Linked DNA regions of Homo sapiens. The protein of the gene in region 1 purifies or fractionates together with the protein of each later gene. This does not show direct contact. Each region holds a gene or a part of one and is shown in the gene's direction. Other genes may lie near its edges.

Evidence for each region.
Region 2: the proteins of MCTS1 (region 1) and CTPS2 purify together in Homo sapiens (co-immunoprecipitation; one large-scale study listed by IntAct). This does not show direct contact.

What each region holds. Positions count from the first base shown.
Region 1 is NC_000023.11:120,602,575-120,607,267, forward strand, and holds the start of MCTS1 (malignant T-cell-amplified sequence 1), read left to right. Parts: upstream 1-1,526; 5' UTR 1,527-1,662; coding exon 1,663-1,673; intron 1,674-2,124; exon of another isoform or gene 2,125-2,279; coding exon of another isoform or gene 2,280-2,293; intron 2,294-2,832; coding exon 2,833-2,985; intron 2,986-3,504; coding exon 3,505-3,602; intron 3,603-4,693. UniProt on the Homo sapiens protein: Translation regulator forming a complex with DENR to promote translation reinitiation.
Region 2 is NC_000023.11:16,587,112-16,590,681, reverse strand, and holds the end of CTPS2 (CTP synthase 2), read left to right. Parts: intron 1-906; 3' UTR 907-2,683; downstream 2,684-3,570. UniProt on the Homo sapiens protein: Catalyzes the ATP-dependent amination of UTP to CTP with either L-glutamine or ammonia as the source of nitrogen. Constitutes the rate-limiting enzyme in the synthesis of cytosine nucleotides.

The sequences.
Region 1 (4,693 bases):
CCCGTCTCCTCAATATGGACTAGAGTATTTACTCCCTGGGGAGACTGGTGTATTTGTTTTGGATGTCAGTGCCTACCCACCCCACCTCCTGCGTAGGGCCTTTTCAGGTTTTTAAATTTTTCCATGATTTCTTGGCTGATCAAAACCCTTGATTAGGCCAGGCACAGTAGCTCATGGCTGTAATCCCAACACTTCGGGAGGCTGAGTTCGGGGAATTGCTCGAGGCCAGGAGTTCAAGATCAGTCTGGGCAACTTAGTGAGACCCTGCCTGTCTCTACAAAAAATTAAAATTCGCCAGGTGTGGTAGTGCATGCCTGTAGTACCAACTACTCCGGAGGCTGAGGCGGGAGGGTCACTTGAGCCTGGGAAGTTGCAACTCCAATGAACCGTGATCATGCCACTGCACTCCAGCCTAGGTGACAGAGTGAGATGCTGTCTCTAAAACAAAAAACAAAGTGAAACTCTTGATTGGCATAATTTTGTTTCTCTATCAGCTTTATTTTTAAAAAAATTACATAAGTAAAACATGTCTCTTTAGCTATTATCTCTTAAATCAGATTACCTTCTGTAATAATTCTATGGGAATTATTCTACGGGAGCACAGTCATTCACGCTTGTAACCCCAGCACTTTGGGATGCCAAGGTGGGAGGACTGCTTGAGCCCAGGACTTTGCAACCAGCCTGAGCAACATAGACCCCGTCTCTACAATAATAATAATAATAATAAAAATAAAAAAATTAACCGGGCATGATGGTGTGTGCCTGTAGTCCATGCTACTTGGGAGGCTGAAGTGGGAAGATCCCTTGAGCCAAGGAGGTAGAGGCTGCAAGTGAGCCATGATAGCACCACCGCATTCAAGCCTGGGCAAGAGTGAGGCCCTGTCTCAATAAAAACCCGCAAAAAACTTTGGGAGCATCGTACGGTTGCCAGTGAATAAGGTTATAAGATAAAAAACAGGATGCTCAATTAAATTCAGCTAAACAAGCGCTGTATATTTTTAGTGTAAGTATATCCAAAATATTAATGAGGTATACTTACACTAAAACAAATATTCATTGTTTACCTGAAATGCAAATTTAAATAGGCATCCTGTATTTTCATTTGCTAAACCTGGCAATCCTACCAGCACTTTAACATGAAGCCATGAGGGTTGCCTGGATTCATGCTGGTAGGTAAGCACCAATCCATTCGGTTGCCTCAGACAGGACAGAAACCATTCCCTCTAAAAAAATCGTTTACTTTGACGATAGGTAGCAACGAAGCACGGAAGAATCTTGACCCTTTGAGGAACCCGTAACTGACGCAAGTGCCATAAATGCTACTTTGATTGATTCTCCGCCCCCTCCATTCTTCTCTTCCTGCAATTGCTCTATCACTTCTTCCCTCTCAAGTCCCGCCCTTTCAGCTACCTCCAACTGCTGAGGAACCGGTTGCCTAAAAGGAGCCGGCAAAAGCGCCTACGTGGAGTCCAGAGGAGCGGAAGTAGTCAGATTTGACTGAGAGCCGTAAAGCGCGGCTGGCTCTCGTTTTCCGGATAACGACTACAGCTCCGACTGTCAGTGCCGGCCTTCCTCGTGTGAGGGGATCTGCCGGACCCCTGCAAATTCAATTTCTTTCCCATTCCGGGCCCTTCCCTATCGTCGCCCCCTTCACCTTGGATCATGTTCAAGAAGTAAGGACATGCTGTGGCCTCCATCGGCTGCTCACAAAGGCGGTGGGGTGGGGGTGGGGAAGAGGGCGAGAGCTAAGATCCTCTTTCTCTCTCCCCCGCCCCTGCCATCCTGACTCCCTAAGGTTTTCTATAGTACTATGCTCTCACTCCCAACTTGAACACTTCTTTAAGCTTTCCATCCGTAGTCCTTAATTGGGTTTCAGTCCCTCCACTCCCATTGTTTTTTCTCCTTACCCCTCTTTCTCTTTTGCCCCCTCCCCCAATTCTGTCTCCATTCCTAGGGTTCTACCAATCACATCCGTGCACTGTGATTTAGAGGCATATTCTCTGTAGCTGAGAGGGGAGCCCTGCGCTCACTGCCATATGTTTATTAGTTATGAACTGAATAAAGGAAGGCTTGACTTCCTGGGTCATGGGAGTGAAGGAGTCTGGGTGACAGGAAGCAAGCGGCCTGTCATGCCTATTGCCTAGCTGCCAGATTAACCTTGCCTTGAAAATAACGATTGCCCCATAGGCTATTCAGTGTAAGGAAGACAAAAATTCCTTGGGAACCTACTAGTGGGTTTGCCTTCCAGATTTGGTAGACGCAAAAAGCAAAGGGGGAACATGGGCAAAGGAAGGTGGGTTTTGTGCATGAAATTTTGAGCAAAAACGAATAGGGATCTTAGAAATCATTATTATCATCACTTAAAAAAAATCTCAGCAGATTACATAGCCTAGCAGGGGCCGATTTTCTATGTTATGCTTGGGTTGGTCTTTTGTATCTCAAGAATTGAGGGTTTTGTTTTCTGATCTCAGGTTTTATTATTGGTGGGAGCCTGTGTTTCTTCCTGGGTAGAATTGAATAAGATTTTCCAGGAAAGGCATTTGTGTAGCTAATTACAGATTATGGTGCAAAGTATGTCTCATATTCCTCCCCCTAACCCCAGCTAATTGCTGTATACTTGACAGTTTATTTCAATATTGTATTAAGACATTGGTTTTGTGCTGGACAGAGTAAAAGGGAGATGGTATTTTTTTTTAAAAGAACAATTTATTTCATAATTAAGTATCTAAATACTTGGTTGGGAATAAATGACTAATTAGAACAGTACCTTTAGGTATTCTGATACCTCTACTTAGAAATGCCTTTTCTTTTCTTGCAAAAATTACTTGGCAGATTTGATGAAAAAGAAAATGTGTCCAACTGCATCCAGTTGAAAACTTCAGTTATTAAGGGTATTAAGAATCAATTGATAGAGCAATTTCCAGGTATTGAACCATGGCTTAATCAAATCATGCCTAAGAAAGATCCTGTCAAAATAGTCCGATGGTAAGTCTTTGTTTTTGTCTGTGTAAAGCTCGGTATAGCTGAATATTTAATGATTAGATTGCACTCATACTAAATGGAATTATTTTCAGATTAACTATTGATAGATTAATAATGGGGTAGACACAGAATAACTCTAAAACTCCAATATTTGTATTTTCAAAGATTTTCTATGTCCCTGAAAAAATGTGGCTTTGTGTATTGATTGTTCTAGTAAAGAGTTAAATGTTTTAGTTCAGAGTTGGATTTAATTTATTTCAGTTTGTTGTTTAGAGAATTGTTTTATTGAATTACCTAACAATGGAATTAATAAAATGTGAAATAAAATTGGTTGTAGCAGGTAATATTTTTCTTTTTTTCTCTACTGGACTTGCATGATAGGAAAAACAATGTAAACAATATTTTTTGGCCAGGATTTTTACTGACTTTTTAAGAAAGTTTATCACTGTATATGCGTGTTTTATATTGTGAATTTTTGAAAGAAAATATCTAACTTGGTACTTTGTGACATTTGTCTTACAGCCATGAACATATAGAAATCCTTACAGTAAATGGAGAATTACTCTTTTTTAGACAAAGAGAAGGGCCTTTTTATCCAACCCTAAGATTACTTCACAAATGTAAGGTTTTTTTATTTTTATTTTTTGAAATTTTACTCCTATTGCAATATTCAAATGTAAAGTCTTGTAAGAAATATGCATTTAATCAGATAAGACACTGCTGGGGGAGAAAAACAGAAATATGCATTTGGGAATACTGAAAGACACAAAAAGAGTTTAGAGTGACTTCTGATAATTGACTCATTATTTATTAGTACTAGGTAATAATGGATGTAAAACTAAAATGAATGCCCATCTTGTGGTAAATCTGAAAAATGCAGATTCTCTCATGCATTCCAGAAAGCCCAAGAAAGATCATTTATTAATTCATTCAACAAATATTTATTGCCGGGCACGGAGGCTCACGCCTGTAATCCCAGCACTTTGGGAGGCCAAGGCGGGTGGATCACCTGAGATCAGGAGTTCGAGACCAGCCTGGCCAACATGGTGAAACCCCGTCTCTACTAAACATACAAAAGTTAGCCGGGCGTGGTCACAGGTGCCTGTAATCCCAGCTACTCGGGAGGCTGAGGCAGGAGAATCACTTCAACCCGCGAGGCGGAGGTTGCAGTGAGCAGAGATCACGCCATTGCACTCTAGCCTGGGGAACAAGAGCGAGACTTAGTCTCAAAAAAAAAAAAAAAAAAAAAAAGACAAATATTTATTGAACTTACTATGTGCTAGGCATTCAGCTAGGTGCTGAGAATACAATGGGAAGCAAAGACATTGTCTCTGTCCTTAAGAAACTAATAGTCTAGTTTGGAGAATAAACAACAATTAGATAATTACGCAAATATGTATTTACAAACTGTGATAAGCATTGTGAGCATTTTCATCTTTTATATTTGTATCTATTTGCCTAATAGAGAAAAGTCTATATATGGGAAAGCATTGACTAAGTGTCCTTCCGTCCAGGTATTTCCTGTGATGTGTGTAAATGCATTTTTTTTTAAAATTGGGCTCTCTGTTACATAGTTTTTAAAAATTGATACGTCATAGCTGTACATTGTCTGCTGTTGTGGTGCCTGTATCCCCCACCACCTATATATATTTATAATAGTTGTACATATTTTAGGGGTACATGTGATATTTGATACCTTTATACAGCGTGT
Region 2 (3,570 bases), about 100 Mb from region 1:
ATTATAGGACTCGCCTCACAGGATCTTGCCCCTTTGAGATACTCCCATTTGACTGGCACAGTTAGCAGGACACGCATGACAGCCCATGACAGAGTTAGTGTTTGGGGAAAATGGAATGCACCTTGGGCCAGGAAAAAAAAAATATAAGTACACCTATAAATGTATATGTGGGGGCTGTTGTGGTTAGAGTCATCATAGTCTAGGCCAGGGGTTGACAGACTTTCTGTAAGGTCAGAGAGTAAATATCTTAGGCTTATGAGCCATGCAGTTCCTGCGGCAACTACTCAATTCTGCTGTTGTAGCAGGAAAGCAACCATAGACAATATGTAAGTGAACAAGCATGGCTGTGTTCCAATAAAATTTTATTTACAAAAACAGTTTGCTGATCCCTGGTCTAGGCCACTCATAGAAGAGCAGATTTCCTTGGATTTGTATAAAATAAAATTAAAATAAAATAAAACATAAAATAAAATAAAATAAAATAGTATTTGATTTCTTTGTAGGGAGATGCAAGAGACAGGCTTAGTGTCCAAGGGCAGCTTATTTTTCCATTGCTCTATTATGCACTATTAGAGAGAATACCAGCCTGGATAGCTTCAGTAAATTTATGCTCAGTGGCAGATAGTGCCTGGATTGCCCTAGGCATTATGGCAGGCCTTGACTTGTATAAGCTGTTCTTTAGCAGAGACAGCAGCTTTTGGAAGACTTGTAAAGTGTTCATTGCTTTCCTGTGAGGTCTCTTCATGTTTATCAGGGAAGATGCAAAGCTGTGTCTATTTAGTTTTGCCTCAAACATGGAGACCCTTTGGAGCAAGCCAAAATGGTGCAAAGGTTAGCTGGAGATATTGAAAGACTTGTATTATTCAGTTCCTGGTGTTGCTAATATTTATATTCTTTTCTTTTAAGCCTCTGAAATAATTGAAGGCAAGATGAAGGAACTATCTGAAGAAATCACTACACTCTTAGAGAATCCCTCTGTTCTCCAGCAAACATGGGATGTAAAGCCTCACAGGGAATCTGATAATACATACTTCTGTCAACCAGAACCAGAGGGGTAGTTTTCTTTTCCCTCCAGAGGCAGCCTTTGGTACTTAAAATATCTGTAGCTGATTAAATTTTTCCCAACAACCTCACTGGGGAGAAAGTGTGTTCATGTTTTGTCCAGCGGATCAGGATGTTAGGATGACGAGCAAGAGTCCAGGTCACTGTGCCTTTGCTGTGTTGTATGGAAAGGATGGCAGGGAACATGCTGTAAGTAATTTTGAGTAAGAAAATGAGTCACTGTGTTACCTGGAACTCAGCCACAGATTTGTGTGTGGTCCAAGATCATTGCAGTTTCTCACCCTGTTTATTTCCTGGTAAAAGTAAAATTGAATAGGTCCAAGACTTGGGGGTGGCAAGTAAGGCTTTGCCTCAGGCACAAAATTTAAGGGGGCTCCAAAAAACTCAGGAATCAAGATCAGCAATACAGTCTGAGTATCCCTTATGTGAAATGCTTGGGGCTAGAAGTGTTTTGAATTTCAGATTTTGGAATATTTGCATATACATGCGATATCTTGGGGATGAGACTCAAGACTAAACATGAAATTCATTTATGCTTCATATACACCTTATATACATAGCCTAAAGGTAATTTGATACAATATTTTAAATAATTTTGTGCATGAAACAAAGTTTCGACTGCATTTTGACTGTGATTTCTGGCATGAGATCAGTTATGGAATTTTCCACTTCTAGCGTCATGTTGGCATTCAGAAATTTTGAAATTTTGGAGCATTTTGGATTTTCAGATTAGGGATGCTCAACCTGTATATATATTTTTTAATCGACGTGAAATTCACGTAACATAGAATTAACCATTTTGAAGTGAACAATTTGGTTGCATTCACTGATGTTGAGCAACCACCACCTTTAACTATTTCCAAAACATTTTCATCACTCCAAAATAAATGCCTGTACACACTAGCAGTCACTCCCTATCTTCCCCTCCACCTGTCCGCTGGCAACCACTGATCTCCTTTTTATTTCTGTGGCTTTTTCTATTCTGGATATTTCATATAAGTGGAATTACACAATATATGTGGTCTTTTGTGTCTGGCTTCTTCTGAGACAGTAGGAAGGGGGGCTTGGCTTTGGCTCACCCCCACTAGAGCATTTTTTCATGCATTCCCACTGATCACAAAACCCATACTACTACCTCATTGACACCATACCTGCTAACCTCGAGGCTTTAGTCATACAAAGAAAATGGCCTTTCTGTATTGTTCTTCTGTGCTCTCATAATGCTTAACCATGTCTTTTACTTAAACAATTCCAGGAACTGGCCTTAGGAGATCCAAATAGGGAACCAAGATTGCAGAGTGTCCCATCTTGGGAGGGAATGCTGAATAATTAATTGATTTACAGCCTTGTTGCCGCTGGCCAGACCACCAGGTGGCCCATTACTCGAGATGATCATCACAACCAGATGATGCTAACCTATATCCTCTACCCTTCGCGTGCTTTGTCTGGGAAGTCTTTTGGCCCCATGTCAGTTTCTATTGCATTGAGAGCCCAAGAGCCCCTGGTCAGTCAGGCTTCCATTTAGCATGGCGTTTGCAAGGTTTACCCATGTTGTAGCATGTGTCAGAATTTCATTCCTTTCTATGGCTGAATAAAATTCCATTGTATGAATATACCACAATTTGTTTCACCTTTTGGTTATTGTGACTAATACTATGAACAATCACATGCAAATGTTTGTTGGAATGCCTGTTTTTAATTCTTTTGGGGTGTATGCCTAGGAGTGGAATTGCTGTGTCATATGTAATTCTCTTTAACTTCTGAAGAAGGATCAGTAATATTTTAATGTAGTATTATTTTAAAAAATCAAAATTAGGCCAGGTGCGGTGGCTCACACCTGTAATCCCAGCACTTTGGGAGGCCAAGGCGGGCGGATCATGAAGTCAGGAATTCGAGACCAGCCTGGCCAACATGGTGAAACCCCGTCTCTACCTAAAATACAAAAATTAGCTGGGCATGGTGGCCCGTGCCTGTAATCCCAGCTACTTGGGAGGATGAAGCAGGAGAATTGCTTGAGCCCGGGAGGCGGAGGTTGCAGTGAGCTGAGATTGCACCATTGCACTCCAGCCTGAGCGACAAGAGCAAGACTCCGTCTCAAAAAAAAAAAAAAAAAAAATCAAAATGAAATAATTCACATTTGAACACAAAATCAAATTTTCAAATAAAGACAGGATCCAGCTCTGCACCTCCTTCACCTCCCCCAGTCCTTGCCCCATTCTCTGACGTTCTTATCTAGTATGTTTTCTACTTTTTCCTGTTGAATGTGCTTGAGATGACTTAGTTGTTGCCTACATTTAAGCTTTCTAATACTAATTTAAATATTTTAATTGTTCAGTTAATTTTTTTGTGGTGGTTTTGCTCCCCCCCCAACTTTTTTTTAATGCCATAAGGTATTATGGCCTTATTTTGTAAGATGCCACAGAAAATTCATCTACCAAGCACATACAAAAATGAAATGAGTAATTCTGGTAAACAAAAAAATTAAAGAGCTTTAGGGCCCTGCTTGCG